Regions from separate parts of the Homo sapiens genome. Here all the other regions are linked to region 1. Evidence: fine-mapped expression QTL. A gene starts in region 1. Each other region holds a variant in brackets. All regions are shown on one strand. Distances are between the middles of the regions.

Region 1 (8,100 bases):
CGTCACTCCAGTCTCCGCCTTCGCCATCACAGAGCTTCTCCCTGTTTGTTTGTTTCTTTTTTTTGAGACAGAGTCTCGCTGTGTCGCCCAGGGTGGAGTGCAGTGGCGCGACTTCGGCTCACTGCAACCTCCGCCTCCCGGGTTCACGCCATTCTCCTGCCTCAGCCTCCCGAGTAGCTGGGACTACAGGCAGCCGCCACCACGCCTGGCTAATTTTTGGTATTTTTAGTAGAGTCAGGGTTTCACCGTGTTAGCCAAGATGGTCTCGATCTCCTGACCTCGTGATCCACCTGCTGCGGCCTCCCAAACTGCTGGGATTACAGGCGTGAGCCACCGCGCCCGGCCGACTTCTCCCTGTTTGTATGTATCTTCACATGGCCATCTTTTTTTTTAACTAGGAGATGAGGTCTCACTATGGTGCCCAGGGCATAAAAGATCTGATCTGTGGAAGTCAAAACACTAAACTTTTTAGCCAGGCAGGTCTCGTGGCCTGCACCTATAGTCCGAGCCACTCTAGAAGCTAAGGCAGGATAATTGCTTGAGCCCAGGGAGATGGAGGCCAGCCTAGGCAACAAAGCGAGACCTGTCAAACCAAATAAAATATAAAATAAAATCACTAAGTTTTTAGGAGAAAAGAGGCTATCTGTAAGACTTTGGGGTAGGGAAAGTTTTCTTAAACAAGGCACAAAAAACTCTAGCTATAAAATAAGATTAATAAGTTTAACGTTAAAATTGAGAACACATCACACCTGTAATCCCAGCACTTTGGGAGGCCGAGGCAAGCAGATCACGAGGTCAAGAGATCAAGACCATCCTGACCAATGTGGTGAAACCCCATCTCTACTAAAAAAAAAAAAATTAGCTGAGCATGGTGGCACACACCTGTATTCCCAGCTACTCTGGAGGCAGAGGCAGGAGAATCGCTTGAACCTGGGAGGTGGAGGTTGTAATGAGCCGAGATGACACCACTGCCCTCCAGCCTGGCGACACAACCTGGCAGGTGGAGGTTGCAATGAGCTGAGATCACGCCACTGCACTCCAGCCTGGCGACACAGCGAGACTCCGTCCCCCCCAAAAAAAAGAAAAAAAAAAATGAGAACACAGCTTCACAAAGAATACCATAAAGAAAACGAAAGAACAAGCCACAATTTGGGAGAAGATATTTGCCACATACATAACCAACAGAAAATTAATATCCAGAATAGCTTTAAAAGATCAACTATTTAAAATTTAAACATTTTTAAAAGACACATGGCCCAATAAAAAATGTCAAGAAATAGGAACAAGCGTTTTACAGGAGAGGAAATCCTAATCATGATGATGTTATACCTACTAAGTCAGCAGAAATGAAGAATCTAGTAATACCCAATGTCAAAAAGGATTTGGATCAACAGGAACTCTTAATACATTAATATAATCTCTTTAGAAAACAATTCAAGTGAAACATTTGTCTATATGGATACAGCACTTTTCACTTAGATTTATATTTCAGAGAAATTTTTGCAAACAGATAAGAAGACACCAGAATGTTCGGGACAATATGGTTCTCAATGGCAAAGAGACAGGCAGAAAAAAGGGAGGGAAGAAAGGGAGGGAGTGCGGGAGAGAGGGAGGAAAAAAGGAAATGAAACCCAAACACTCTTTAACAAGAAGATAGATTTTAAATTCTGGTATATTCATACCACTAATTACAGCAGTGAAAACAAATAAACTACACACAAGGGTGAATCTTAGCCATATACGAGTGGAAAAAATCAAGTTACGGAAGACAATCAGCAGGAGGATTCCTTTGTCATGAAATAATCTAAATAAGTAGTTCAGGGAAACACACCTATGTAATTAAACTACTTCTTAAATAAGAGACTGGTAAACCTAAATTTCAGGCAGGTGGTTCCCTCTGGGTCAGGCAGGTGCAAGAGTGGGGAAGAGGCACAAGGGCACAGGTCCCCTGATTTCCTAGGGTGATGGGTTCAAATGCATCCACTCTGCTGGTACAATTCATGACTAACACTGCCTTTATTCTTTTGTATGAATAAACTGATACGGCCAAAAAATTCAGAGACATTCACACACAAACCCAGCCTAGGACCCTGGAAGGCAAAGGCTCTGCAAACCTGCAGATGTGTAGGAAGCTATTACATATAGGGTTTGGGGTTCGAGTGTGCAGCTTTCCTACAAGCAGCAACAATGAATGGGACCTTTAGTTACAGGTTTACATCTCCTTCTCTAAGCATCCAAATGCACTAATTATTGCCATAATAAATAACAATGACATGATTATAGTGTGAGGCAGTTTTTTCTACTTTTAGAACCAACCTATAGACAAAGCTCAGGACACTTAATTATAGCTTCAGAATACATTGTAAATGTTGTAAAACCTTACTTTCTTAAAAAAGTAATATAACTCTTCAGAATACATTGTTAGAAAACTTTAATTCCTAAAAAATATAACTCTTCAGACTGCAATGTCAATGTTACAAAACTATTTTAAAAAGTCATATACCCAGTACTTTGGGAGGCCAGGCAGATTACTTGAGCCCAGGAGTTCGAGATCAGCCTGGGCAACATAGGGAGACCCCATCTCTACAAAAAAAAAATTAAAAATTAGCAAGGTGTGGTGGCACATGCTGGTAGTCCCAGCTGCTTGGGAGGTTGAGGTGGGAGAATCGCTTCAGCCCAGGAGGCGGAGGCTGCAGTGAGAGGACACAGCACCACTGCACTCCAGCCTGGGCCACAGAGCAAGACCCTGTCTCAAAAAATAAAATAATAAAAAAGTAATATAACTATTCAGAATATATTGTAAATGTTACAGAAGTTTCTTTGTAAAAGTAACTAACATGAAATGGAAAGGGGGAAAAAAAGCAAAGGGAGGGTAAGGGCATGCAATTTTTTGTCCTTCATGGGAGAAAGTAAATAAATACCAACTAAAGTTGTGGAAGTTTAATTAGGTTACTGAGAGTTACAAGCCTATCCAGGAGGGAAACTGATGGGACCCTCTGCGGGAGCGGGGAGGACAGCAGGAAAGATGCATCCTTTTTCCCGCTGTGCCTCCTGGGCATCTGAAGTCCACGTGGGCCAGTTTGTCACTGAACAGCATAGGCCCCTGGAGCCTCCCGTGCACTCCACAGCCACAGCCTGGCCTCAAGAAAGAACAGAGTCTGGCTTCACATGACCTTAGATCACTAAATTTTGACTCAGACGTTAACCAGAAATACCTGCACGTCCAGGCCCAAATTTTTAAAATTGTCCTTTGTATCCACTGTGAGCTGCAGACACGGGAACCCAAACCCAGCAGACAGCACCTAATGGTGCCACCGAGTAACCATATTCCCATTGCTAGTTTTGATTCCAGAAGACACAAGTGACCCCACCTCAGACCAAACAGAAGCAAGGACAACTTTGCAGGGAGCATCTCGGCGAACTTCTAGAAGCAACTGTCCCCCTCCCACCAGAACATAAGCTAAGAAGCAAACAGCTCCCATTGCTGTCAGCACAGCTGTACAACAAAAAGGAGAACCAGTTTCAGGATGAGGCCAACAAGGTGAACAGTGCAGTAGAACACAGCAAGGATGTCAGTCCTGGAGGAGGCACCTGCAGAGCCGGGCCCTACCAAGCAGAGTGAAGAAGTCTTTCAGAGGCAAAGCCTCCCAGAGAGGAGTTCAGTACCCAGAAGAGTAGGTGGACGTGGGCCTGGAAGGGCCAAGCATGAGCCCAGAGCCTCCTATGCCTGCCCAAAGTCTTAATTTTATCCCCAAAATGAACTTTTAAGGATTCAATGCTTAGGAGTAACATGGCCAGATATGCATTTTACAAAGATTACTCCAGGGACCATGTCGGTGCAAGGCTGGAAAGCAGGAGAAAGGCTACAGTAATCCAGGCAAGAAATTATAAAGTCTTAAATTAAGGTAGCAGCAGAAAGATGAAGAGAGGGAACCCCTAAGAGAAAAATGGACATCGAATGGTACTGAGATGCGGAAGGTAAGGACGAGAAAGGCCTCAAGACGGCAGCGCAGGCCCCTGCCGTACTCTGGGAAAGAAAAATTAGTGAAAAAATTAAGGCTCAAGTCCAGGTCTTTGCTGTAACCACGAGCGCCGGCGGCGCGCGCCCCCGACCCCGCGGCGCCGGCTGAGCCCGCAGGGACCCACACGCCCAGTGCAGGAGGCTGGCGGGATCCGGGCTGGTTCTCCTGGAGCTCGCCCCGCAGGGCCGGCTGCGGTGAAGAGAGCGCAGGGTCCCGAGGCGACCCGAGGCGCGGGGCCTCGGCGCCCACCGGGCAGGCTACACTGAAGGGCACCCCGAAGACGCTGGGGGCGCGGGGCCCAGGGCCAACGGCCGCAACCCCGCCGCGATTTGGGCACGGAGAGGACGCGGGCTCGGCGGTGCGCGAAGGGCGACGGGCGCAGGGGCGGGAGACCCGGGGTCGGGCTGGTCTAAGAGTCGGGCGGCGGATCCTCCTGGGCCAGGGGCGCGGAGCCGCGCAGGCCCCACAGCCGCCCTGGGGAGATGGCGGAGCCCGGCCCGCTCTCCCGAGCGCAGGTATCTCACCTGGATCAGGCGAGGGTCACGCCAAGCCGGCTACACACCACGGAAAGGAGCCCTTCCGCGCTTTTATCCCACCGACCAATCGCACAGCGACTAGCACCGATTGACAAGCTCCACGGACCAGCCACTTGCGCGTATGGGCGGGACTAAGCTAGCCAGAGTCTAGAAGCCCGCGCTAAGGGTTGCTAGGGACGCACCAAACACCCCTACGGCGCTTCGGAGGAGCCAAAGGAATAATGGGCGCCTCCGCCCCCGGGCCGGGCAGATGCGGTTTCCTCCCGACTCGCGATCAAAATGGGTGAGTAGCGCAGAGCTCGCCTCTTGGAGGCCTCTTTCTGAAGGCGGAGGACGCGGGGCGGCTCGTTCATGGGCCGGGTGGCTCCGCAGGGTAGACGAAGGCTGCAGCGTCCGCACTGGGCTGGGAACGACTTGCAAGGGGAGCCCAGCTGGCGCCCCGGAGCCAGCCAGCTGGCTAGCGGCCCCACCAGCGCAAGTGCCCCGCACCTGCCCGCCTGCTCCGAGCGTCAAGAGAAGGCGGCATTTCGCATGGGTAAAATCCGCGCGGGGACGCCGGGAGAATGTTGTTGCTCTTGCCGTTCGGCCCATTGTACAGACGCAGCCAGCGAGGCTCGCAGAGGTCAGGGATGCACGTAGGACTGGCCCGCACCTTGCAGCCACGGAAAGATCCGCCTGGCCCGCGGCCCCTCCACGCCTCCGAGGTCGAGACAGTGACATAAGTCAACTCTCAAGCCCAGGGCGTCTCTCCACTCTGCCTAGACGTCCACTCCGTCTGCCTGCAGCTACGGCTCTGTGCGTCCCGCTTCGACTCCCTCTGCTTTCCTTCCCAGCTTCTCGCCTCCAGACTGTTCCGGCTCCGCCGCCTGAAATTACCTGCTCTGGGGGAGGCGCGGCGCGCGGCCTCATGACGGAACTACAACTCCCATGAGGCGCTGGGCCCACGCAGGCGCGGCGCGGCTGAAGTCGCCGCGCCGGAATCCCATTGGCAGGGCCGGCTCTGAGGCGGGAGCCCTGATTGGCTGAGGGGTCTGAGGCGACAGATTCCGGAAAGGGGAAGAGCAGCCAACATGGCGGCGGAACGCGGCGCGGGGCAGCAACAGTCGCAGGAGATGATGGAGGGTGAGCGGCCCCTGCGGGCGGCGGCCCAAGGGCCCAGCGGGCGGGGGGAGCTGCGGGCTGGAACTGCTCCGTGCCTGAGAGAAACTCCACGTCCTGCCTCTGGCCGCCGCCGCGCGGCCCCCTGACAGCTGACAGCCGGACCCGGGGGAGCGGGGGAGGCGCTGGACCTCGGGGGAGCCCCGGCCCGGGGGCGGCAGCGGCCGGGAAGGACCCAGAGCTAGGGGGAGAGCGGCGGCGCGAGGCCAGGCCGGGGGTGGGGCTGAATGGGACGCGGTGGCTCCATTCAGTCCAGTTGGAGCCTCGCCCCGAGCCTCTGAGATTGACGGGCGGGGGAGCCTCCTCGGTCAGCTGACGAGGAAACTGAGGCGCTGGGATCTACCAGAGTCTGCTCCTTGGTTCACGTGGTGAGGGTGGAGAAGGGTCTTCTCTTGAAATCGAATGGACTGTTGGGAAGGGGTAACAAGGAACCGGAAGATTGAGTTACACAAGGTGATACCTGTTTTCAAAGCTGTCATAGTTCCAAAAAGTCTGAATTCAACTTTCTTCCTCCTCATTCACTTTGTTGGAAAAAAAAACCACATGCATATATGTATATGTTATACGTACACATGTGTTTATAATTTTCTGCATATCTGTAGGTACAGTCATATACGTGCACGTACAGTATGTGTGTAAAAATGCGTGCACACACCCACTTAGCAACTGGGGAATCAGTTGTGTCATCAGCTTAAGTACTTTTGGGTCCCATGGTTTGGTGAGGGGTACAGACCTCCCAGAAGAGCAGTCACTGCCTTATGTGAAAGGGGTAGGGAAGAGGAATGTGGAGCTGGGGAAGGAGGGCGGGTGCAGCAGGAAGGCCTGACATGTTAGGGAGTGGTGACAGCTGCAGAAGCAGGGCGAGCTCTGAGCTGGAGCCTGAAGAATAACTCGAAGGCAACGAGGTTGGGGATAGGGTGAGGGAAAAGAGCAAGAATCACTCAAGACGGAGAAAACTGCTGTCAAAAGGTGTGGAGGAGAGTTTGACCAAATCGTATGTGGTGGGGATGGGGGCGGTAGTGTTAAGGGTCTTGGACTTCATACCCTTTGAGTCTTTTTAAGAAGCGCCTCTTCATATCCTCCCACTCCCTCTTCAGCTGTTTCCATGTCTTGGTAAATGACAGATATAAAAGCCCGGCTTTTCTCACTGTCCCACTCCCACCCATGTCCTGTTAGTCAAGGAGCTCTGACTTTTACTTTTGAAAGTATCTCCAAATCTCCGATACGTCCTCCATTCCCATTGCCAGTACCTTAACTCAGACCTTCATCATCTCTAGGCTAGATTGATTGTCCCTGTTCACCAGCCCATCATCCCCAGTACACCAAAGTCATTTTCTTACATGCAGAGCCACTGTCCCATGTTCCAGACCCTCTCTGCTGCCCTCAGGCTTCACTTTGGCCAACCTTCGTTAGCTAAGCCTTTGCTAACCTCACACCACTCCTCCTCTTACTGGGGTTTTTGTGCCAGATTGTCATGCAGTAGAACTTTCTCTCCCTGAGCCTGGACCACCAAGTGACCTGTGCCTGGTGGTGACTAATTTGTTATATATCTACTGCATGTCATGCACGTGCTAACTGCTCTTGTGCCTTTTCTAATTTAACCGTGACAGCAACTTGCTGAGGCATAGGTGCTATACTAGCTCCCTTCCACAGACTAGGAGATTGAGGCTTTCAAATGGAAACGATTTGCCAAAGCTGCATCTCTAGCAGCAAGATGCAAACTCAGGAAGAGCATTCCAGAAATACTTTTGGACTCAAAAGATCAGATTTGGATTTTAGAATTAGATCAGACTCTCTGGCAGGGGAGAATAGGTTAAGCAGGGCAAGACAAGTCACAGAGACGAGTTAGGAGGCAGGGCAGGAGCCCAGGCTGCAGCTAATAAGTAAGTGAGCCACCGTCATTGCGGGGGTAGGGAAGAAGAGATGGATTTGGAGGTTTTGGAGGTGGGTTTTATAAGGACTTGTTTTCTACAGCAATCCTTTCTTGGGTTTTACTTTGCTAGGCTAAGCGGGAAGTACAAAGATGAAGTTGAACTTTTTCCCTCAAAGAGCACATCTCTTTGTAGATAAACCATAGTCAGGAAAGAGTATTTTCAGTATGGTTGATAATTCCAAGTAATGTGTTAGTGCCTCATGTTTTCCAGACAGACTTCCAAAAGAGGTCATGAGTAAAGTTATAAAAAAGAAAAATGATTTGACAACCTTACCAAAGAATTTTTACCTGACACATTGAATTGCCTTATTCTTTAATTCAAAAAATATTTATGAACCTTTAAAAGCCTTAAGTTGCTAACACTCTGTCCAGTGTCCAGTGTGAAAGCTCATTTCACACCAATGAGCTTTCTGTGGGCGGTCAGCACTATTGGCTGTATTCTCCTTTTCCT
Region 2 (8,100 bases), 29 kb before region 1:
AGGGCCACCATTGGTCCATGCGGCAGACACATCCCCTGCATTTACCTCCCCTAAGTCCCACGGACATGAAAGAAGAAACAAAGTGATAAACGCCTGCAGCACAAGGAAGCACAGAAGGGGGTCAGCAGCTGACCAGAAATGCAGCGTCATTACTGCCCATTCTGTAAGGTGGACAGATGGGTGAGATGGAGAATCCAGGTGGAGCTGAGGGAGCCATAACCTGGGCTGGAGAGAGGGCCCCAGAGGCCTCAGGGCATGTGCCCCGGAGAACATCCACGTCACCCCGACTTCTCAACCAAGGACTGGAAAGCCCTGGCCAAGAGAATAAACGAAGAAGCCAGAAAACTAGAAAATACAAAGAAAAGCTATCACTCTTAGACATGTTTTCAACATTGACTCTGAGATTAATCAGACTTTAGCAAGACTGACAGACATAAGGTAAATATAAGAAAAACAGTGCTACCACAGTCAATGATAGTCAAAGTGTAACAGAAAAAGATACCATTCACAAAAGAAAGAACACTGCAAGTCGCTGAAAATCTGGTCGCCCAACACAACGCCTGCTGCTACGTGGGTGTCGGCACGCAGCTGAAGGAGCGATGGGCAACCCAGCGGGTGCCAACCACAGGATGGGCCTGTTCAGGTGTCAGGAAGAGATGCTGAGTGAGATCACGCACCAAGGAACGATGAGTGCCAAGAAGGAAAAAAAGATGGGGCAGGAAGTGCCGCGGGGGTGCAGCCCCTGCGAGGTGCATGGGATAGGGAGTGAGTCCCGGGAAGGCAGCTTCTGAGCGCCTCGGGGAAGGCCCTCCAGGCAGAGGGCAGCGGGAGCACAGGACTGTGGCAGAGCGCACCTGAGCTGTGAGGAGGTGTGAGGGAGGCGGGGGGCTGGGCAGGCAACGTAAGTGGGCATCGGGAGGGCATCGGGGCCAGGGCGGGAGCAGGAAGAATCATCGGAGCCTGGGCAACATCCAGGCCTCTCACCGTCATCAGGAGAGAAGGGGGCAACTTGGGTGCCAGCCTGTGAGAGGTGAAAGGAGACAAATTCTGAAGACCCTTTGACGGGAGGGTCACTATGGCCCAAAAGGCCAGAAGTGAGACTGAGGGAAAGCAAGAAGACGAGGGGAAGCAGGCTGTGGTCCTGAGGAGCAAAAGAAGGGCCTGCTGAGATGTGGCAGAGCTCCAGAAGCCTCCGGGAGGGCGGGAGCCCTGACACTCTAGGTGAAGAGGCCTGCGGCCTGTCCAGCTGCAGGGCCAAGGAGACAAGAGGGCAGGCTCCTCCAGGGGGGCCCATGCACACCTAAAATGAGTGTCAGGAGGAGGGAGAAGGAAAGAATTAACGGAACCAAAGAACGGAAGCTTTAAATATTCAGATCAAAGTCTTACCAAGTATCAAGCAAGAATAAAGAAAACACACACAAACATAAACCCCTAAAGACATCCTGGTGAAAACTTTGAAAGACAAAGATTTTACATCTAGAAAGAAAAATAAATCACGTTTTGCTGTCAGCAAAATTCACTTCAAAATAATGCTAGATTACAACAGATACAGGTCTAAAAAGTTCTGAGAGGAGAAAGGCATATCATCACTAAAATATGAGAGAAAAATAAACACACTTTAATACATACAAGGACTGAATGTATAGTACCCATGAATCCTTCCTGGAAAAACTGGCAACGAATATATTCTAGCAAATGAAAAATAAACCTGGAAAAAAGAAGAAACTGGACATAAAAATAATGGAGACTTAACAAAAGAACAACAAGACTTGTACACTGAAATTACAAAACACTACCGAAAGAAATTAAAGATCTAAATGAATAGAAAACTTTCCACGTTCACAGATCAGGAGACTAAATATTGTTAAGATGACAATACTCTCCAAAGTGAGCTACAGATTCAATGTGATTCCTATGAGAATCTCAGCTGGCTTTTTTGCAAAACTGACAAGCTCATCCTAAAATCCTTAAGAAAGTGAAAAATGGCCAAAACAATCTCAAAATAGCCAAAACAAGCTTGGAAAAAAAAAAAACACAAAGTTGAAGGACTAGCATTTTCCAGTTTCATAACTTACTACAGAGCTACAGTAATCAAGACAGTGTGGTACTGGCTTAAGGACACACTTAAGATAGAAAGACAGACTATAGATCAATGGAATAGAATTCAGAGTCCAGAAACAAATCCATGCATCTATGGTCAACTGATTTTTGACAAGGGTGCCAAAAACCACTCAATGGGGAGAGGACAGTCTTCAACAAGCAGTGCTAGTACAACTAGATATCCACATACGAAAGGGTGAAGTCCAACCCCAGTCTCACACCACACACAAAAATTAACTTCAAAAATAGATCAAAGACTTACATGTAAAATCTAAAACCATAAGACTCTTAGAGAAAACATGGGAGTAAATCTTTATGACCTTGGGCTTGGCAGAGTCTTCCTAGATATAACACCAAAACACAAGTGACAAACGGTAAAAGAGACCAACTAAACGTCATCCATTTAAAATGTTTCTGCTTCCCAGTCTTCAGGAGCCCCCAGTGCAAAGCCCAGGGGCTGGCAGGGGCCCACGGCGCAGGGCAGACAGCCTGGCCAAGGAACAGGCCAGCGTGTACACCAAGCTGTGTGGTGTACACACCCCGCACCCGGTGGAGGCCATGATGGGGCACTTCCCGCAGCTCCTGGACCCGCAGCAGCTGGCTGCCGAGATCTTCTCATACAAGTCCCAGCACCCCAGTGAGTAAGCTGCCCGTGGCTGGCAAGGGCAGCACCCCCAGCCTCCAAGGGCTGTCAGGCTGGGCCTTGCGCCATCGAGCAGCCCGTTCCCAGCCCTGAGGCCCACCCCAGAGGCTGGACAGAGGGAGGATTCAAGTCGGGAGGGAAGCCCACAAACCAAAGATACCATAGGACTGGTTCTGGCCCATGCAGCACCTCTAGGTGTCTGCCTGAGTGGGTCAGAAGCGATCACCCTGTTGATACACATTGTATCTCTGTAGTTTAAGGAGACGCTGCCAGTAACGGCGTCCGTCCATGGCTGAGGCCCAAACTGTCTTTTCTTTCGGAGGGTGGGGAGGGAGGTGGGGACAGCAGAGGCCTGGGCTGCGTGCCCTGTGCACGCCACCCCACTTCCGCCCTACCCCTGGGACGTTGGCCTTGGCTGGCTAGTTGGGCATCATGTGCCCACCCTCCAAGGGCCTCCTCTACACCAATGAGGCCTCATCCATGCTCTCGCTGGGCATGTGGCTTCATGTCAGTAAGCAAGATGCTTCTTTTTTTTTTTTTTTTTGGAGACAAGAGTCTTGCTCTGTCGCCCAGGCTGGAGTGCAGTGGCGCAATCTCGGCTCACTGCAAGCTCCGCCTCCCGGGTTCATGCCATTCTCCTGCCTCAGCCTCCTGAGTAGCTGGAACTACAGGTGCCCGCCACCACGCCCGGCTAATTTTTTTGTATTTTTAGTAGAGACAGGGTTTCACCGTGTTAGCCAGGATGGTCTCGATCTCCTGACCTCGTGATCCACCTGCCTTGGCCTCCCAAAGTGCTGGGATTACAGGCATGAGCCACCGCGCCCGGCCTGCAAGATGCTTCTTAATAACCCACCTTCTGCCCCACTCTGTTCCTTATCCTGCTGCCCCTGTAGGAGTCAAGGGCCCTCTGTCTACACCCTCTCCTCCTCCTCCATCCTCTATTCAGAGTCATCTTGTCCTTCCCCACGGGTGGGGGAACATGTGTATGTTTGTGTACACATGTAAATTTTAAATATTTTAAGCAGAAAGTCCTTACCTCCTATAAACCATCCATAAAGTACAATCAATGTGAGAAAATAAATAATAAAATTAATAAAATAAAATAAAATGTGCTTCAAATGAAACATCAAGAAAGTGAAAAGACAACACATTTAATGGAGAAAATATTTGCAAATCATATATCTGATCAAGAAATTGTATCTAAAATACAGAACTCATACAATTTAATAATAAAAAGACAACCCAATTTAAAAGTAGGCAAAGGGGCAGGGCCAGGCACAGTGGCTCACACCTGTAATCCTAGCACTTTGGGAGGCTAAGGCGGGTAGATAACCTGAGGTCAGGAGTTCGAGACCAGCCTGGCCAACATGGTGCAACCCCATCTCTACTAAAAATACAAAAATCAGCTGGGCCTGGTGGTGTGCACCTGTGATCCCAGCTACTCAGGAGGCTAAGGCAGGAGAATCGCTTGAACCTGGGAGGTGGAGGTTGCAGTGAGCCAAGATTGTGCCACTGCACTCCAGCCTGGGCGACAAAGCAAGACTCTGTCTCAAAAGAAAAAAAAAATGGGCAAAGGATCAGAACAGACATTTCTCCAAAGAAGATTTACAAACAGCCAATAAGATCATGAAAAGACACTTGACATCATTAGTCATCAGGGAAATGCAAATCATAACCACAGTGAGCTACCCCTTCACACCCCCTAGAATGGCTAGAAATGAAAAGACAATAATAAGTGTTGACAAGGATATGTAGACCAGGAACCCTTGTACACTGCTGATGGGAATGTAAAAACAGTATAACCTTTTTAGAAAACTGTTCAGCAGTTCCTCAAAACATTAGACACAGAGTTACGACATGACCCATGAAGTGCACTACTAGGTATATGCCTAGAACTGAAAACATATGTTCACACAAATCTTATATACAATTGTTCATAGAAGCATTATTCCTAATGGCCAAAAAATGGAAACAACACAAATGTCCATCAGCTGATAAACGGATAAACAAAATATGGTGTCTGTTCATATAATGGAATATTACTCGGTCATAAAAAAGAATGAAGTACTTATACATGCTGCAATATGGATGAACCTTGAAAACATTATGTTAGATGAAAGAATCCAGTGACAAAAGAGCATGCTGTGCATGATTCCATTTATATGAAGTGTCCAGAATAGGCAAATCTATTGAGACAGAAAGTAGATTTGTGGTTGCCCAGGATGG[G/A]ATGGAGGAAATTCGAGCAGGACGGGGGTTATGCGACTGACTACTGATGGGTATGAGGTTTCTTTCTGAGGTCATGAAATGTTCTTCGTTTGTGGTGATGGTTGCACAATTCTGTATATACTAAAATCTACTGAACTGTTCACTCTAAATGGGTGAATTATATGGTATGTGAACTATATCTCAATACCGATGCCAAAAATCATGATGAAATATTAAAAACTAACAAGAAACAAAAACATGACATAATAAAATATAGTCAACAGAAAGTAGGAAAAATAGAGGGGAAAATAACAAAGCACAGAAATATCCAGAAACAATAGAAAACATCTAGATTTAGATTATAGATTTAAATCCAGCCATATCAGTAATTTCATTAAACATCAACGGTATAAACACCTCAATTAGAGACTTTCAGACTGAATTTCAAAAGCAAGATCCAAGTGTATGCTGCCTACAGAAGACCATTTTAAATATAGACATAAATGACTAAAAGTAAAAGAATGAGAAAAGTTTACTATGTGAACACAAATCAAATGAAAGCTGGAGTAGTCATACTAATATCAAAGTAGACTTCAGAACAAGGCATATCAAATTAGGAATTAGTTCATCAAGAAGATGCTATGATACTAAATGGGTATTCCTATAACAACAGAGCTTCCAAATATATGAAGTAAAATCTGGGAGGATTACAAAGGGAAACAAGCAAATCCACAAGTATAGGTAGAGACTTCAAAACATAATACAAGCATCAACAAATTTAAAGAAACTGACATTATACAAAGTATGTTCTCTATAAAGAAATTAAAAACAAAAAGATATCTGAACAATCACCAAATAATTGGCAATTAAACAACACACTTCTAAATAACACAAAGTAACAACGTATTTGTAAATGAATGAATGTGAAAGCACAACATATGAAAATATGTGATACACAGATAAAGCTGGGGTTGGAGAAAAATTAAAACATTAAATGATTATATTAGAAAAAAGCATAGCTCAAATAAATGATCTAAGATACCACCTTAGGAAAATAGAAGAAGAAAATAAAATTAAATCCAAAGTAAGAAAAAATAATGAAAAAAATTTTTTATAATAAGAGAAAAGTCACAAGATTGAAAATAGATTATAAATAAGAAAAATTAATGAAACCCAAAGCAGGTTATTTGAAAAGATTAAGCATGTTTTCAGCATGCATGTGCAGTGCCCGTGAGATATGAGCATCTCAGTGGGGAGTAGGAGAATGGTGCAAGCCCCAGGCTCAGAAAGGAGGGAACACAGGTCCAGATGTGGGATCTCAACACAATGGCAGGAGGCGAAGCCCTGAGCCTGGCCTGTTCGAGGTCTGAATCTACAATTGGACGGGATCAGCAACCCTGGATGTCAACGTGTGTGCTGCTGGGAGAGCCTCTTTGAATCCGGAAACCGCCCACATGCCAGGTTGTGTGCTTGGTGCCATACCTAGAGGACTCCTCCAAAAACCCCAGGTTTGAGAACTGGGACCAAAAGTCGAGAGCCATGTGAAGTGGTGCCCGGCGCCACTCCCCCCCCACAGCCAGGTTACCTCCTTGTTTTTTTCCTTGTCCACAGCAGTCCACACGAAGCCGAAGGCCCCACTGCCCAGCGGGCTCATGGTACTGTACTTTTGGGAGTACTCGCCCTCACAGGCCGCCAACCCCTCCAGTTCCACAGCCTTGGGGGGCTCCTCAAACCAGGGTCTGGCTCTGAGCACCTGCAATGCAGAAGAAGGTCTGTGGGGTCACATGCAACTGCACCGGGCAGAGGTGCAGCACCCACAGTGGTCCCCCTGCGTCTTCAGCAGCCGCCCGAGGCAGGTGTGCCCTGCACTCCAGTCCCCTCTCCTCCCATGCTCTCAGACAGGTCTGAAAGCCTATCTCCACAGGGCACCCCAAGCAGCCTCAGCACACTGATCCCAACTGGCACACATGTCGAAACGTGTTTACACCCCACCATATACATGGGCCTAGGCAGATTTAAAGTGGCTTCTTTTTTTTTTTTTTTTTTTTAGACGGAGTCTGGCTCTGTCGCCCAGGCTGGAGTGCAGTGGCGCAATCTCGGCTCACTGCAAGCTCCGCCTCCCAGGTTCACGCCATTCTCCTGCCTCAGCCTCCCGAGTAGCTGGGACTACAGGCGCCCACCACTATGCCCGGCTAAATTTTTGTATTTTTTTTAGTAGAGATGGGGTTTCACTGTGTTAGCCAGGATGGTCTTGATCTCCTGACCTCGTGATCCACCCGCCTTGGCCTCCCAAAGTGCTGGGATTACAGGCTTGAGCCACCATGCCCGACCTAAAGTGGCTTCATAGTCACACTGGATATTAAAAGACAGTGTGAAAAGTTACAAAGAGGGCCAGGCGCAATGGCTCACGCCTATAATCCCAGCACTTTGGGAGGCTGAGGCAGGTGGATCGCCTGAGGTCAGGAGGTTCAATACCAGCCTTGCCAACATGGAGAAACCCAGTCTCTACTAAAAATACAAAATTAGCCAGGCGTGGTGGCGCGTGCCTGTAATCCCCACTACTCGGGAGGCTGAGGCGGGCGAATCACTTGAACCCGGGAAGCAGAGGTTGCAGTGAGCTGAGAAAGCACCATTGCACTCCAGCCTGGGGAACAAGAGCAAGACTCCGTCCCAGAAAAAAAAAAAAAAAGCTACAAACAGACTGTATTCCCGTCCCCAAGGAAACAGAGAGAGATGCCAACTAGGATATTTGCCACACAGTACAAGGCAAGTCCAGGGCAGGCATTGATTGCAAATACCCACTTCCACCAGGCTGGGTCCGGTGAGCTCAGCAGCGGTAGAGTGGGTGGAGCCGGGCAGGCTGGCAAGGAACAGGCGGGTCCTGGCGGCTGAGTCGCGTTGGCTGTGGAGGAGGTCTTTCACCAGCCAGCAGCAGAACAGAGGTGTGGGGCCCTGGAGCTCCACCCGCCTCACCTCAAACTGTATACCTGAAGGGTGAGAAGGTAAGAACGCACAGGCCTGTGCTGACCTGGCTAGACAGCAGCTTTAGGTTAGAAAAGTCCAGTCCCCAGAATGCAACAGTCCAATCCCCAGCAGCTTTAAGTTAGAAAGTTCAATCCCCAGAACACAGACCAGAGAGCAGCCCAGGCAGA
Region 3 (8,100 bases), 84 kb before region 1:
AGAAGAGATACAAAAGGCCAACAAACATAAAAAGAAATATTCTATTTCATTAGTAATCAGGGAAATGCAAATCAAAAGTGCAATGAGGTACATTCAGCTGGTAAATTTTCAGAAGTCTGAAAAGCCTATACCGGTGAGAATGTGGATCAACAAGATTTCTTATGCATTGCTGGCAAGAGTATAAATTGCTAGAAGCACTTTGAAAACAATGTGGCACTCTGCCTGTTGAGCAATCTGCCCACTGTTGCTCATTTACGTCAACTGTGTTCCAGCAATTGCACTTCTGGGTATAAACCTAAGAAAAACTTCACGTCTGCACCAGGAGATGGGAAAGAATATACACAGCAACATTTTTTGTAAAAGCAAAAAGTCTAGGCTGGGCGTAGACTCATGCCTGTAATCCCAGCACTTTGGGAGGCTGAGGCAGGCGGATCACGAAGTCAGGAGTTCGAGACCAGCCTGGCCAACATAGTGAAACCCCATCTCTACTAAAAATACAAAAATTAGTCGGGCATGGTGGTGGGCGCCTTTAGTCCCAGCTACTCGGGAGGCGGAGGTTGTGGTGAGCCAAGATCATGCCACTGCACTCCAGCCTGGGCAACGAGCGAAACTCCATCCCCCCAAAAAAAAAAAAAGAAAAAAAGAAAACAAAAAAAGGAAAAAGTCTAGAACCAACCCAAAGACCCAGCCAGTGAGAATGGGTGAAGTATGATATAACCACACTGTGTAATGTTATTCAGCAGTGAAAATCTATGAACCACAGTGACCTACAGTGTGGAGTTCTCTTCTTCATATAATGCTGAGAGAAGACAATATATATCATGATGTACTATGAATAAAGTTCATAAACAACAAAAACATTCACTATTGTTTAGGCAATTTATAAAATTTTTAAGCTAATTTTAATTACATATTTTACTGCCAGAAAACCTAGTTTTTAAAGACAAGGAAATTATAAACCCAGAGATTCTTATCGCAAGGGAAGAGAAGGGTACACGGTCGGATGAGCCCATTCAGCATTCTGGCTGCCGGGGTGGCTGCTAGTCCCAGATGTCACTAAGTCATTACCATTTATTTACTTTTTAAGCATGAAATTAAACTTTAAAAAAATAAATATTTAAATTCAGGAGCACAACTCCCGCTTGAAAAGAAAGCTGTGGTGAATCATTTAAAACCAAGATTTGTCCCAGATGGACTGGTTTCACAGGTGACTATTATACATTGAAATGGCAAGATGGGACATGAGACATTTTCTGTCAAACCCCTGAGGCCTTTGTCCTGTCGGCCTGAACCACTGGAATTAAGTCCCACAGCGTCTTCTGGGAGCCCTGGGGTGGTTTCAAGCCCGCCCTGCTGCTTCACAGACACAGCCAGGCACTGAGCCCCAGGCCCACTGCCCTGCCCCGACTCCAAGGATATCCAGCCCTGGTCTCTGGCCTTTCCAACCACTGATGATGTATCATCGAATTCTGTCTGGCCCCTCAGGACTAGTTTATGTGCATCTTAATTTGGCTTAATCGTGGCCACATTGCTTTATTCTTGGGCTCTCTCCTCTCAGAAATCGATGAGTGCCGGTCTCAGCCGTGCCTGCATGGGGGCTCTTGTCAGGACCGCGTTGCTGGGTACCTGTGCCTCTGCAGCACAGGCTATGAGGGCGCCCACTGTGAGCTGGGTAAGAGGGGCCCTGGCCCCGCTGGGGTGACAGCTGCAGCACACTGGCCATGTGCCTGAGGCACTGGGTCCCCCGGACAGGTCTCTGTCTGGATGGCCAGGGTGGCCACTGCATGCTTTCTCGGGCCCCTGCCAGCTCTGACATCCAAGACAAAGATTTTACAAATATCCCTTCCTGCACCTCCCCAGGGGAGACTGAGAGCCCAGCTGAGAAATGCTGGCCTGGCTTCAGGGCGCAGAGAAGGTGGGCGTCGGAGAGGGCAGGTCACAGTCTCTGACACCTGGTCGGTGCTTCCAGCCAGTGGAGGGAGGGGAGGCCTGCCCCATGAGCCCTGCACACTCTTGTACCTCGCTAGGGCTCTAAGCCTGAGAAACGCAGGCTCCAGGGAGGGCAAGGCCCAGGGAGCCGTGCCCAGTCGTGGCCCTGGGGAGCCTCCCATTGCGGAGTGGCCTGGAGGAAGGCATGGCCTGGAGGTGGGGCTTTGCCAGCAGGCAGTGGAGGTGGCACGCCTCCCGAGGAGGGGTGGGTTTGGGGCTGATGGAAGAAAAAGCACATGTCCTGAGTAGTTGCTCCCAGCTGGGAAAGGGGTAACTGAAGCCCCAGGAAATGCACGGAATCCTGGGGGCATGTGGGCGCCTCAGACTTGAGCCAGCAACACCCTTGACACCCCTTCTCTGTGCAGAGAGGGATGAGTGCCGAGCTCACCCGTGCAGAAATGGAGGGTCCTGCAGGAACCTCCCAGGGGCCTATGTCTGCCGGTGCCCTGCAGGCTTCGTTGGAGTCCACTGTGAGACAGGTAGGGGCTCCCTCCAGTGGGCCCCACATGCAGAGCCTGGGCCTCTGGAAGATCAGAGAGGAGGTGGGGCATCCCCACATTCCCTGCTGGGCAGGCCACCTGGGGAGAGGGACCCCCAGGGCTGCGGCCACCTTGGGAGGGAGGGGTGGAGGTGAGGGTGCTGGGGAGGGCTGAGGGGCGGGACCTGCCCACTGCCCCTCTCTCCTGGCCTCCGCCCCTAGACTCCTCCTTTCCCTTCTTCCCGCTGTCCTCTCCTCCCTCCCCCAGACTCCCCCCTTGCAGCTTGGGCCCACTCTCTGGGTGTTCTCCAGAGGTGGACGCCTGCGACTCCAGCCCCTGCCAGCATGGAGGCCGGTGTGAGAGCGGCGGCGGGGCCTACCTGTGCGTCTGCCCAGAGAGCTTCTTCGGCTACCACTGCGAGACAGGTAGGGCGGCAGGCCTGCCTGCTCCCCGCCCTCTGCCCGCCTGCTCCCCGCCCTCTGCCCGCCTGCTGCCCGCCCTCTGCCCGCCTGCTCCCCGCCCTCTGCCCGCCTGCTCCCCGCCCTCTGCCCGCCGCCTTGGAAGTCCCCTTCTCAGGCCAGTGGCCCTCCGCCTGTCTCCCTTGGTCCCACAATGGTGCCTTCTAAACCTCCCCATCTCCTGCGCTCACCCCCCAGACACCCCTCTTCACCCGAGGACACACCCAGGGGTGGGGCCTCACGTCCACACATAGGCCCTGCTGCCCTTGGACAGGCCAAGTTTCTTGCACACCCAGGTCTGGCCCCTGGCTGTCCTTCCATCTGGAACATTCTCCCTAATCAGCCCCCAGTGGGATACCTCCTGATGAGGCTTCCCTGACCACTGACCTCCCCTCCTCAAGCAGGACTGTCACTGGGGTGGTGGCCTGTCCTGTCCTGATCCAGTGTCTCCTCCCCTCAGCCAGTCCGGCTGGTGGCACTCCGCTGTGGAGGGTGGAGGAGCTGCTGGGTTGGGCCCCGCAGGGCAGTGGAGGTGGCAGAACCGAAGGGAGGCAGTAGCTGTCCTGTGCCCCCCGCCCCTCCACACCCACGCAGGAGGGACCCAGTGCCCCAGGAGCAAGGGCGGGGCTGGAGCAGGGACCCCTGGCCACGCCCCAACATACACTGCCACTTTTTCTCCCCTCAGTGAGTGACCCCTGCTTCTCCAGCCCCTGTGGGGGCCGTGGCTATTGCCTGGCCAGCAACGGCTCCCACAGCTGCACCTGCAAAGTGGGCTACAC[G/A]GGCGAGGACTGCGCCAAAGGTGGGTGGCGAGGGCGCCTCCAGTGAGGGAGCCACGAGGGGGTCCCCTCTCCCTAGAGGGCCCAACGGTCTCCAAGGGCAGAGCGTCTGGCCGCTGCTTGCCCAGGCCCCTTCCCTGAGGAACAGGGAGGGGATAAAATCCCCCGGTGGGCTTGAAACACGGTCACACATTCAAAAGTGTGACCCTCCTGGAGGTACGTGGCCAGGGACAAAGAAGGACTCTGCCAGCGATGGCTGTGTCAGGCCCAAGAGCCAGACCCGGCTGAGCCGCCGACGGGAGCCAGGCATGCATAGCTAACGGCTGACCAGTCCCCTCCCCTTGTTTTGACCCAAACCCTGAAGAGCTCTTCCCACCGACGGCCCTCAAGATGGAGAGAGTGGAGGAGAGTGGGGTCTCTATCTCCTGGAACCCGCCCAATGGTCCAGCCGCCAGGCAGATGCTTGATGGCTACGCGGTCACCTACGTCTCCTCCGACGGCTCCTACCGCCGCACAGACTTTGTGGACAGGACCCGCTCCTCGCACCAGCTCCAGGCCCTGGCGGCCGGCAGGGCCTACAACATCTCCGTCTTCTCAGTGAAGCGAAACAGTAACAACAAGAATGACATCAGCAGGCCTGCCGTGCTGCTGGCCCGCACGCGTGAGTGTCCCCGAGCCTGGCCGTCCCTGCCCAGCCCCTGCCCCTCGAGGGCAGCGCTGGCCCCGGCACCTGCAGGGCGGCTGTCATGCCGTCCACCCTCCTAGTTCTTGCAGCAGCAAGACAGACAGCTGAGCTGGGGGTTGGAGGCACCGCCCTGCTGGAGACAGAGCTGTGTGGGAGTGGCCTTGGGTCCACAAGATACAGGCATGGGATTGGGGCGCATAGAATCGAGCCAAGAGTGGGAGCAGCACAACCCCCAGGCATGGAGCTAGGAAGTGGGACTGGGGAGGAATGGGGGCTTCCCAAAAGGGTCCCTAGAAGGAGCCAGTGTGGGAGACAGGGGCCGCGGGGGTGGGCTTGGGGGGGCTGGGACTCTGGGGTGCTCTGAAGGCCTGGGGAGAGTTTGAAAGAGGCACCTGCTCACAGGGATATGTAGGCGCTGAGGTGTGCTAAGGGGAGGCATCGGTGGCTCAATCGGGAAGAGCCGTGGGGCAGGCCCTAGATGGAATGACAGACCCAGAGCCTCCACCTGGAGCTGGCACTGAAAGCTGTGACCAGATGTGACCCCTGAAGAGGGGGTCCTAGGAGGAGCCTCCTCAGAGCCTGAGCCACCAAGATTGCAGGGGAGGCCCGGGTTGTGCACAGCCTGTGGGGTTGTTGCCGTGTCGGGGAGCAGAAGATGCTGAGCGCTCTAGGGAAGGCGTCAGGGCTTAGCGGGCTTGTGTGCTGCTGGGAGGGATTCTGGGAAGGAGAAAGGAGCCCTAGAACATGGCAGTGGACGGACAGGGGCAGGGCCGGAAGAAAGCAGAGGGCTGGCCTTCCACGGAGCCCGGCCGCATCAGCTAGAGCACAGGGGATCTCGGAACAGGCTGGGCAGGAACCAAGTGGGGTGCAGGGCCATGGGGCCATGGGACTCTCACCCAACATGCCTGTGGCCTCCAGACACAGGAGCAAGAATGGGGAAGGGGTGCTAGAGGCTCGAGGAAAGAGGAAAAGGTGCTGAGAGCACAGACTGCTGCGAAGTGGCGTGATGGATGGATGGGTGGGTGGGTGGCCAGGGCTTCAGGGAGGCCTAAGCATCCAGCAGGGCCCTGCGGGGCGGCCACGTGAGTTTGGTGAAACCTATGGGTAGCATGGCGGGTAGGTGGGGAGGAGCTCGGCGGTTCTCACAGGAGGAAAGCCTCCTGGCCACACCTGGGCCCTAGCTTGATGCCAATGCCAAGGGCATTGAGGGACAGGAGAAGGCATTCAAGGCAGCTTGAGCCCACCCAGAGGCCCACAAGGGCCTGTCCTGCAGGAGTTGACCACCAAGGGGCTGGAGTTCCCAACACAGCAAGGACACAGAGCACACCTCGGCCAGTGGAGAGCCTGGGCGCATGTGCGGGTGGCACTGAGCAGGTGTCAGCAGGAGCTGCCAGGGGCTGAGTAGGGGTGGCTCGCCTGGGCTGTTTTAGGAAGAAGCACCTGCAAGGCCGCCCCATGTGAGATCTGCCCTCGGAAGGTATCTGGAGTGAAGACAGAGCCCGCCCTGCCCGCTGCAGAGTTGGGGCTCCAGCCAGCCATGGTGGGTGGAAGGGACCGCTGTCCACAGACCGGGGTGCTGAGTTGCCGGGAGCTGAGCGCTGCCCTCTGGGCTCTGCCTGGTGCATCAGCAGTGGCACTGGAGCTTCGGAGGAGACTGGCTGGGCGGGAAGCGGAGCTCACAAGTGGCCCCTTCCCTGCAGTTGCTGGGAGTTCTGTATGTCTGTCCTCCTAAGACAGCGTTGCCCAGACCAGGCCCGGATGTGTGCTCTTAGACCAAAATAGTCAACTGGCACAGAAAAGGGGAGGTCCGGGTTACTCATGTCCAGAGGGACTCCGGCCCATCCCCTGCCATGTCACTGCCACATCTAAATGGAGACTAAGACCCCTGCCTCTGGTAAGACGGGCTGGCCCACAGCGGGCTCTGCAGCCGTCATGCTCACAGCGGGTTCTGCAGCTGTCAGCCCTGGAGGCCAGAGCCTGGGCATCCCACTCAGCCCGAGTTCCCTGAGCAGTTGATGGGACACCCTCTCCAGTGCCTCTCTGTGGCCCCCAGCACCCTCCCAAGCCTGGTTTCATCTTGAGCCCCTGCACTCCCCCAGGAGCAAGGAGGGGCCGGCACCTGCTGAACAGTCCATTCCCCCTAGGACCCCGCCCTGTGGAAGGCTTCGAGGTCACCAATGTGACGGCTAGCACCATCTCAGTGCAGTGGGCCCTGCACAGGATCCGCCATGCCACCGTCAGTGGGGTCCGTGTGTCCATCCGCCACCCTGAGGCCCTCAGGGACCAGGCCACCGATGTGGACAGGAGTGTGGACAGGTTCACCTTTAGGTAAGAAGGGACACCCAGAGCATGGGGCTGGGGTGAAGGCAGGGGTGGGGGCTCGGGGACACGGGGCCCAGGTCTCGGGCACATTCTCCGTGTGTGGACTGTACCACCTGCCGCTCCTCACCTGAGCGGAGACAAAGGTCTCAGGTGAGCCAGCCTCAGACCCTGGAGGCTTCACTCCCGCCTCACCTCATCAGGGCTGCCAAGAGAGGATACACCTTGGTAGTGTTTTAAAGTGTCCAAAAAGAGCAGGAAAAGCTCAGAAAATCCGGGGGCACACTTTCCACACAGATCATGAGAGTGACTTGGCCCCTCAGAGAGCAGCGGCCAGCGAGGGTAGATGGTAGCAGCCCCGAGCTCTCCCAGGAGTCCCACAGTGGACCCCTCAGAGAGCAGCGGCCAGCGAGGGTAGATGGTAGCAGCCCCGAGCTCTCCCAGGAGTCCCACAGTGGACCCCTGTGATTTGGTCGCCAACCAAAGAGAAAGCTTCCGAATCGTGCTCAGCGCAGGCAGGGGTGCAGGAAAAGATCGGAGAGCGAGTGGGAAGGAAGACTCCAGCCAGCAGCTTCCTGGGGCTGGGGTGGCATTGGCCTCACGTTGTCCTGTGGTTTCCTGAGAATTTACATCAACTCACCTGTGCTGAGGGCCCGTCCCCCATCCCTGCACAGTGACCACTTCCCCCTTCTCTGGCCTCTCCCAGCTGAACACCGGCCCTCTGACCATACTGTAGCAGCCCCAAGCGCACCCGATCCTCCTCCGCTGCCCGGACTATGGGTTGGCTTCCCGCCCTAGGAGCACACGGCTCTGAGGGCCATGAGTCTGCCCCTCGTGGAGGTTGCCTGGGCCACCAGCAGCAGGATGACCTCCCCGCAGTCACCTCCTGCCTGGGGGAGCTGCGGTCTGGCAGCAGAGTCACACACAGGTCCCAGACATCCCTGTTCTCTCTTTGTCACCTCCTGCCCACAGGGCCCTGCTGCCTGGGAAGAGGTACACCATCCAGCTGACCACCCTCAGTGGGCTCAGGGGAGAGGAGCACCCCACAGAGAGCCTGGCCACCGCGCCGACGCACGTGTGGACCCGTGAGTAGAGCAGCGCGGCCCCCGGCACACGAAAGGCCGTCTTCTAGAAGCTCTGGCTTCCTTCCAGCCTCCCCTAGTCCTCTCCAAAGCGTCCACAACACCAGAAACCCAGCCCCTGGCCTCCCAGATGTCTCTTCCGCTGGGGCCACTGGGCAGGAGCCGCTGGGCTGGGCTGGGCCCTTGTGCTGGGACAGCTGTCCAGGGCAGTCTCCATCTCTAAAGGCTCCTGGTAGCTCCTCAGCATGGAGTTCCTACTGGACACCGACCAGAGGGCCAGAGGACCTCACTGGGCCAGGGATACCCATGCTA
Region 4 (8,100 bases), 54 kb before region 1:
CTCAGCTACTGAAGAGGCTGAGTCAGGAAAATCACTTGAACTTGGAAGGCAGAGGTTGCAGTGGGCTGAGATTGCGCCACTATACTACAGCTTAGGCAACTGAGCAAGACCCTCTGTCTCAAAAAAAAAAAAAAAAGAAAAAAGAATTCTGTACGATGGCTATGACCTCAGCTCCACTGTAATCTCATGGGACCACTGTCATGCGCGCGGTCCTTCATCGTGCAGTGCCTAACTGTACTAGGATTAAGAATCCACAAACATAATTTGGGTTTGAGATATTTATACGGTGGTAAGTCACCTGAAATATTAATGTATCTTTTTAAATGCTTGCCTAGCACATCCACTCCCATAAAAACAAATCAGAAACCCCCAACTAATTATCAAATACTGACTTATAGAATACCTATTCTTGAAATAATGGAGACAACACACAAAAAAGCAGGAAACAGAAACACACGCACCCAGACACCCATCCAAGAACAACACGAGAATTCATTTCAACCCAGAGCAACCTGACACAGCTGTGCCCTTGGAGAAAAGACCCAGAGTCGTTACCGGAAGGAGGAGGGCAGGGAAGAGGAACAGGCTGTGATTTCACATTTAAAAGTTGCAATGCTGAGCCCACATGTTCCTAAAGATGGGGATGTAGTCGGTGGAGGCTGCCCCTCCCCGTGTGCACTGCCATATGGTAGAATCCTGGTGCTCTAAGAACGCGGGGTCCTCCCCGTGTGCACTGCCATATGGTAGAATCCTGGTGCTCTAAGAACGTGGGGTCCTCTGGGTGACAGAGGCCCTGAGGGCCACTAAGAGAAGCAGGAAGCAGCCCATTTAAAGAGGAGTGGGAATGCCTGTCATTCTCCTCATGCTTCACTTTGTTTTTTCTTCAAAGGATTTAAGACGTTCTTGTTACACTCCACCAACCTCACGAGTTTCTAACACCCAGGAAGATGAGGTCTAAAAACTGGATGAAAAAGGACACCCTGAGAAAAGGTCCTAGCTGGAGTCAGTCCCCTCTGTGACCTCTCTCCTCAGGCCTCTAGAGGACAGATGGCCAGGCCTGTGCACACACCAGCCCACCCTGAGAGACCCCTCTGGGACCAACCACCTGTGAGTCCTGCGATGCGTTTAAGCAGCCTGTGCCCTCACCCAAGCTGCAGTTCCTGAAGGTGTAGTCTGTGTCTCTGCGGATGAGATGACAGCTCGCCATTCCCCGGAATCAGTGAGGCTGTCAGTCAGCCACGCTTCTGCAGTATGCAGAAACCTGTTCTTAGACTCCAAAGCCAGAGAAAGAATTCTCCCTTCGAGGCCCAACAAATTGAGAAGGAACTGTGATGGACCACTTCCAAAACAGAGACGGGGGCAGGGGCTGAAGGGCAGAGACCAGGTGATGTCAGAAGGAAAGCCGGGTTGCAGACACAGCCGCCCCTGCTCTGGTCCTCCAGCGTGTTTATGACGCTCGTGCAGGTCGACGAGCCATCCTATGGACTAGTTAACACTAAGGTGGAGTTCAGACTTTTTTAGACAACGGCGCGACTGGCAGCCTTTCTCTATCAAGGGTCAGACGGTAAACGTTTTCAGCTTTGCAGACCAGAGGTCCCTGTGGCTACAGTAGCGCAGACACAGCCACAGGCATGTCATTGAATGGCTGCGGCTATGTTCCAATAAAAACTTATTTACAATAACAGGTGGTGGCCAAATTGGCCCATGGGCCTTATTTGGTGAACCCTGTTCTATGAGATCACCTAGGCTTCAGCCTTAAACAGTGGAAGCCATCCCCTGAATGACAAGTCACAAGGGTATCAAAGAAAGACCCCTGAATTTTCATGGAAAAAGCTATTCAGACCCCTGCTTGGAAAGCTAAGGCACACTGCCACGAAGCAGCAAGGACGCCTTACAAGTCTCAGTGCAACAGAGATGGACACCTGGGCTGGGCTGGACAATGTTTAAGGTTCCTTTTAGTCCATGACTCAAGTGATACTGTTTTAGGCTATCAGGTAGTAAACACGATCTTAGACATCCCCATCTTTGTAAGCAGAACAGTACGGCACTTCACCACATCTGCTTCCCACCATGCTTCTAAGCAGCTGTCTTCCCCCTGCTAATGTTACAACCAAAGCAGCCACCCCACCTCCTCTCGTGTTGAGCCTCACGACCGCTGACCCAGCTGGAAAGCCAGCGCCCTGCCGCGTCACCCTGACTCTGCTCAGAGCCAGCATTCCAGCCACAAAGAGGGCCTCCTTCCTTTCCTCTTTCATAAAAATGTTTTTTGAAGAGTTAGAGTATATTTTAGGCTTTTTATCTTTATTAAAATTTCATGTGCATGTGTCTGTGTATTCTGCAATTTGTCATTTTCAGAAAGAAGGAACAGGCAATTCGCGAAGTTTCACCTGTACTCCCGAGCTGTTCCCCAGGCTCCAGACCCACTTGAGAGCAGAAGGTGGAGCTCAATGAAGGGTCTCGAGCTCAGCGAAGGGTCACTGGGTGAACTGAGAGAAACCACGTTCACAAACGCGTACTGCGGACTTCCTGCCGCCCTGGGACCTGTCACTGTTTGTCCATGTAAGCTACAGCATTACTAGCAGATGCTAAGATCGAGTGATATCACTGGAAAAGTAGGTGAATCCTACTAGGAAACTTTCTACTCCCTACTAGGACCTCAAGCCCCTCAGCCACACAGCAAATGCTAATATGCTCCAGTGTTAGCTTAGAAGCCTTGTGTCAACAAGAACTGGCTCCTGAGTCCCAAGCTTGGTGCCACACAGCAAATGCTAATATGCTCCAGTGTTAGCTTAGAAGCCTTGTGTCAACAAGAACTGGCTCCTGAGTCCCAAGCTTGGTGCCACACAGCAAATGCTAATATGCTCCAGTGTTAGCTTAGAAGCCTTGTGTCAACAAGAACTGGCTCCTGAGTCCCAAGTGCTGTCACAGGACTTGCCCATTGGGATGTTTTCCACATTAAATATCAAGTAAAAAGACTTCCTGGTGCTCAGGAATTACAGTTCGTTCTTGAAACATTCCAAAGAGGCCACCACAGCTTTTCCCATGTGGCTTCTTTTAAAAACTCAAATGGCTTCCTTGAAAATACTCAAAGTCCACCCAAGGAAATTAGTAATAATAGAATCAGAAAACTGTCAGGAGCATAAAGATTTCTGTATCAAAATGAAAGAAGCAATCCTGAGTTGCTGAATTACCCATCTGCTAATGAAACCGGGATGGACTGATCATCTAACCAAGTGCAGACTGAGGATTCTACTTAGTCCTCCGACTGGGTACAACAACAGCCTAGGTTCTAGGGAGGGTGGCAGTGACCGGGATGCCACAATGGAAGAGAAAATGAAAACACTGGCACAGTGAAATGTCTCATTTCCAAACAGTTTTGCCTATGGCCAAGCAAGGCAATAAAGACAAACTCTCCCTTTTCCCCATTGCGTGTGGGCTGCCAGGTACAAGTAAGGGAATCTTTGCTGTGCCCACTGTCCTCCAGTAGAGAACCCAACAGGCAAGGGCCCCACTCAGGTATCAGCTCACCTCC[T/C]GCACCTCCCCTTAGCAGGAACTCCTTCCACTGGCAAAGGACTGCCACTGCCATCTGACTCAACTGTGGCGATGTGGACGGAGTCACCGAGCTGCTTTTCTTTTGCAAAACAAAAGTCTTTTTCTTTGCAGTCACGCTGTAAGACGAGGCTGCTGGAGAAAACAAAAGCACCTAGATTTCAGTGCTGAATCCCCACAATTGCATGCAGCTCACACCTACCAGGGGTATTCCAGTGCATAGGGGAAAGGAACCCGGCTGAAAAACCAGCTCCTTATTTTTCTTTTAAATAAAATAATACGATCCTAAGTCCATTTACCATCTGAAGTTGTCACGAGTGAACAGTCACATTACTGTTGTGGACCAGGCCTTAGATGAGTTTCTCAGGCTCAGCACTGACATTCTGGGCCGGATCATCCTCTCTTGTGGGACCATCCTGTGCACTGCAGGATGTTTCACAGCACCCCTGGCCTCTACCCACTAGAATCCTACAATCTACCAGATCCTAGGATCTAGTTGATCCTAGAATGCTACCAAGGAGACTTGAATTTTGGTCCCATCATCAAAAATGCCTTCTGCATCAATCCTATGCCAGTTTCCCCTAAAAGAGGGCTAACTGGAATGTTCTAGGATGTACCAATCCTCCAGGACCCTCTTAGAGCTCATGCCATCAGAGACAGGCCTCTATCTCAGGGATCACCCCGGCTGACATCAAATTCCTCTTCTCTTTTCCCAACATTTCAAATTGTTCTTCGGACTCATTGAGTTCCCTAAGGTGACACGCCCCCCCCCCCCCCCACACCCACCTTGGGGGGTCACGGATTGCTCCCTGTGGCCCTGGCTTCAGCCCACCTGCTCCATGACCCTATGCTCTTCTCCTCTGGTTCTCGAAGCTGTCTGTAACCAGGGCAGGGGAGATAACTGTATGGGACCATTCCCTGGCCTCCACCTGCCCCAGCACTCTCCAGGCCAGCACAGTCTGGCACTACAGACTACAGGGCCGGAGACACCAGGCTTGGAAGTGACCACTGGCCAAGAGCTGACATAAAAGCCAACTTCCCCAAACAGGAAGGGCCTGTTCTTCACAAAGATAAAGAAAACTGCCAGCATTTTGCTGGCCTTAAGAAGCCATGCAAAATTAACCAGTACATCATGAATTAACTTCTTTTACTCTGCTGTGCACTGAATACCATTATGAAGCAATATACTTTTGGATTAAAAATAAGCATTTTTGTGGAAAATCTGCTACATGTTTTCATAAAATAAAGTGCTATGATGTACTAAAACCTCACATTGCCTTCTCGTAATTTTATTTTTATCACAAGAAGGAAATACATAGTGATTCCTGAACCGGAAGAATGAACCCCATCTTCCAACTGTCACGGAATTATCACCAACATATTCAAAAGAGAAAAAAATAAAACCAATTGTTGATATATTGAGTCCCCTTGATGTGAATAGCTCAACATAAGTATCTTATTCAGGATGGGACAGGGCCCTCCCCACAGACACGTGACAACAGATCAAACATGCATTTCCTGTTTCCTGTTTGGTTTGATCTGTCTGCCTCTCAGGTGACTTATAATTTTTTTCATCAAGAGACCAGTTTTAGAATAAAAAATAACTTGAGAAGATTCAAGTAAAGGACCCAAAAGCTTTAAGAGAATGAAAAGCTTCCTTGATATCTCTGGGCCCTTTCGCTCTAGTCCTTCCATCACAGCTATTCCTCCTCGTCGTCGTCCTCATCCTCATCATTGTCCTCCGCCTCGTCGTCGTCCTCATCATCGTCATCCTCATCATTGTCATCCTCATCATTGTCCTCCTCATCATCGTCATCCTCATCCTCATCCAGACTTGCCCTTTTGTCATCAGATGTGCTGCTCTCAGACTCCTCCTCCTCCCGAGCCAGGAGCTTCTTAAAAACTTGAAACTCCTCAACAGAAGTACAGGCTGTCCTGGCCAAAAACTCAGCTTCTGAAACTCTGAGAATGTCCTTGAGCAATGGGTTAGGGATCTGTGTCTGCCCCTTCTTATCAGGGGTTTGGTACCGTCCCAGGCGCTCCAGGTAAATGTGTCTCTGCTTAATCTTGGTTAGTGAATACTGCAAGTACTCACTCTTTACAATGTCTGGATGCTTAATTCCCATCCTGAAGTATGCATACTGGAAGACACAAACACACTTAGGAGTCCCAGATACAGAGTATTGAAACCTATCATTCTATAAACCATAAAAACTTAAGTTGTACAAAAGGATTCAAAAAGAATTGCCTAATTGACAACAGCGAATACCCAGTCTAGGATACTGACATTTGTGTGACAGCCAGCAGTTTCAAAACACTTTCAAATTCATCCTGAGAAACATGGAGCAGGAAATAAAGGGGTGGGAGGGAAAAGGGGCAGGAGGGAGAAGGGGCAGAAGGAAGAGGTGGTATTTTTCTTTAAATGGGGAAGGAAAAGGATGAATATGGAAAGAATAGGCAAAACATTCAGAAAACATCTAGAAATTCGACCTAAGTTGTCATAATTATTACCAAAAAATCGGACAACTGTTAAAATTACATTTTCAAAATCAACATGCAAAATAGATTCTAAGGACAGGAAGGTTTCAGCTATTTTAAAATTAGCTATTTCAGAGTCCCCACTTAGACTCTAAGAATAGGACTGGATCATTCATTATTAATGGCAGAAAAGTTGAAGAATAGGTTTGATCTGTAGTAAAGAAATTAAAGATTTCTCTTTGGCTGATGTATGCAGAGAATCTAGTCTTTCACTTCCTCCACTCAAATATGAGGTGTCCGAGGCTTCTTATCCATATAACTGACCTTCACTACATTTGAAAAACCTGAGAAACTTGCTGTTACTACACTAATCACGGTACCAGTCATTCTCACCTGAAACTACGCTAATCCCATTACCAGTCATTCTCACCTGAAACTACGCTAATCACGCTATCAGTCATTCTCACCTGAAACTTGTATTCCAGTTGACCCAGGTCCTCTCGAAGAACAGAGGGGCAACTGTGCAAAATCTTGGTGACTTGCTGTACCGTGAAAAGGCACTTCTCCTTGAGAAGCCTGACAGTGTCGTTAATGTCCTGCTGGCGCATGGTGAAAATTTCAGGGCAACAGTAAAGCACCCTCTTTAATTTCCCTGCAGAACATTCAAAAAAGGCAAGCATATAATTTCAGGATACTCCAGAAACTCAAGGAGCTAGCTGCACCCAATTTAAGTCCACATTTAAAAACAAACAAGGATCCTCTCCTTCCACAGAGCAAGTGGCAATTTCAGATCTATCTTCCCAGAAGCACCATGGAAATGATACATCTCCCCACTGACTTCCTGACACTCCTCAGACTCACCATCCTTCCCTCCCTATATTCCTGCTTTATTCTGGCCTCCCACCTGAAAGGTGCCAACTTTGTATTTTGGGTCTCCTCTTGCCCTCCTCACTTGGAAAAGAATTTCCCAGGCATTTACTGGAAAGATCAGAGAGTAATATGGGAGAGTAGTTTCCTCCATATTGCTGGTTTGGGTTGATGTTTCCTTCTATAATAAAATAGTCATTGAAGCATTCACAACTAACATTCTCAAGCTGAACTCAATGAAAAGGAGTTCCATCACCATCGTCATCATAACAGTAATAACAATAATAGTAATCATGAGGACACACAACACCAATGCTGACGTCCTGGTTACCAGGGTCACCATATATCTTCTCCAAGCCAGGGCACCTTGAGTGAAAGAGGCCCTATTAAAACCGCACTAACTGGTGTAAACTGGGACTATTCCAGGCCTTCCTAGGGATAGCTGAGCAAAATTCAGTAATGGGAAACTTAAAGTCAACTATTTAAACTGTTAATTAAAATTTTCCTAACATTTGAGTTAGTGATTATCTTAATATGTGAGGAATTTCAGTTTAGGTTTATCTTCATTTCTTAAGGCTGTGCTGAGTTTGCTAATTAATCACCACCACACATAATATATTTAGACTTTTAGATTACACTGTAAGAATCTGTTAAGAAAAATATACAAGGCTACCTTTTTCTTATCTTCTAGAGAAGGAGGCCTGTAGAGATGCTGTGAAATGGTGGATCCTAAACCTTCTACCACTGCCTCAAAAAACATCTTACCAGGAAGAGTCAATAATGCAAAGAAATAATAGTGGAACTCCTCTGGTCAAAGTGGGTAAGGGTCCTTGGAGACCCCCAACTCCTCCAGAAGGCCCTTAAAGAGATTCAAGGAACTTTGAGCATCCTTGAGATGTGAATATTGTTGGGGGCAGGAGTGGGGGATAAATAGAAGGGAAGGCCACTCCACGAGTATCCCAGGAACCTGGCCAGATCTCTCATGTTCCAGAGTAAATCTAAACACTCGACTAGAATCTAAGTCTTTACAAGAGATGTTGGTTTGACATCACATCACAGAGACAGAGCACTAAGACCATTTCATGTTGATTTAAACATCAAATGCTATATGTACACATATTTATCAACATCACATTATCAGCATCAACCCACTGAACACATACCATATGCCCACCACTGCACTAGGTGCTGAAGATCCCACGGTGA

What was found. PIP is the estimated chance that this variant, and not a neighbour inherited with it, causes the effect.
Region 2: its variant is fine-mapped to the expression of PASK in whole blood (TOPMed, PIP above 0.99).
Region 3: its variant is fine-mapped to the expression of PASK in whole blood (TOPMed, PIP above 0.99).
Region 4: its variant is fine-mapped to the expression of PASK in whole blood (TOPMed, PIP above 0.99). The same link has a PIP of 0.9 or more in blood mononuclear cells.

The regions. Positions count from the first base shown.
Region 1 is chr2:241,144,868-241,152,967 of GRCh38, forward strand. PASK (PAS domain containing serine/threonine kinase) reads right to left here and starts at 4,605. Exons shown (of 18, transcript NM_015148.4): 1 at 4,547-4,605. It overlaps PPP1R7 (protein phosphatase 1 regulatory subunit 7), which reads left to right and starts at 5,600. Exons shown (of 10, transcript NM_002712.3): 1 at 5,600-5,680. The coding sequence starts at 5,629. RefSeq lists enhancers at 3,559-3,718, 5,232-5,391 and silencers at 3,972-4,021, 4,072-4,131, 4,192-4,551, 5,682-6,021.
Region 2 is chr2:241,116,199-241,124,298 of GRCh38, forward strand. PASK (PAS domain containing serine/threonine kinase) reads right to left here. Exons shown (of 18, transcript NM_015148.4): 11 at 7,751-7,935; 12 at 6,534-6,701. Among named protein-coding and RNA genes, the nearest start is that of MTERF4, 18 kb to the left of the region's middle. The variant G/A (reference allele first, on the strand shown) is at 4,970.
Region 3 is chr2:241,061,233-241,069,332 of GRCh38, forward strand. It overlaps SNED1 (sushi, nidogen and EGF like domains 1), which reads left to right. Exons shown (of 32, transcript NM_001080437.3): 17 at 1,559-1,672; 18 at 2,355-2,468; 19 at 2,780-2,893; 20 at 3,612-3,725; 21 at 4,067-4,363; 22 at 6,532-6,715; 23 at 7,679-7,791. It overlaps SNED1-AS1 (SNED1 antisense RNA 1), which reads right to left and starts at 2,886. Exons shown (of 3, transcript NR_187212.1): 1 at 2,848-2,886. It also overlaps a transcript of MTERF4 not described here. RefSeq lists a silencer at 2,835-2,994. The variant G/A (reference allele first, on the strand shown) is at 3,706.
Region 4 is chr2:241,090,749-241,098,848 of GRCh38, forward strand. SNED1 (sushi, nidogen and EGF like domains 1) reads left to right here. Exons shown (of 32, transcript NM_001080437.3): 32 at 890-4,820. MTERF4 (mitochondrial transcription termination factor 4) reads right to left here. Exons shown (of 4, transcript NM_182501.4): 3 at 6,495-6,679; 4 at 4,823-5,690. The coding sequence ends at 5,250. Among named protein-coding and RNA genes, the nearest start is that of MTERF4, 7.5 kb to the right of the region's middle. The variant T/C (reference allele first, on the strand shown) is at 3,533.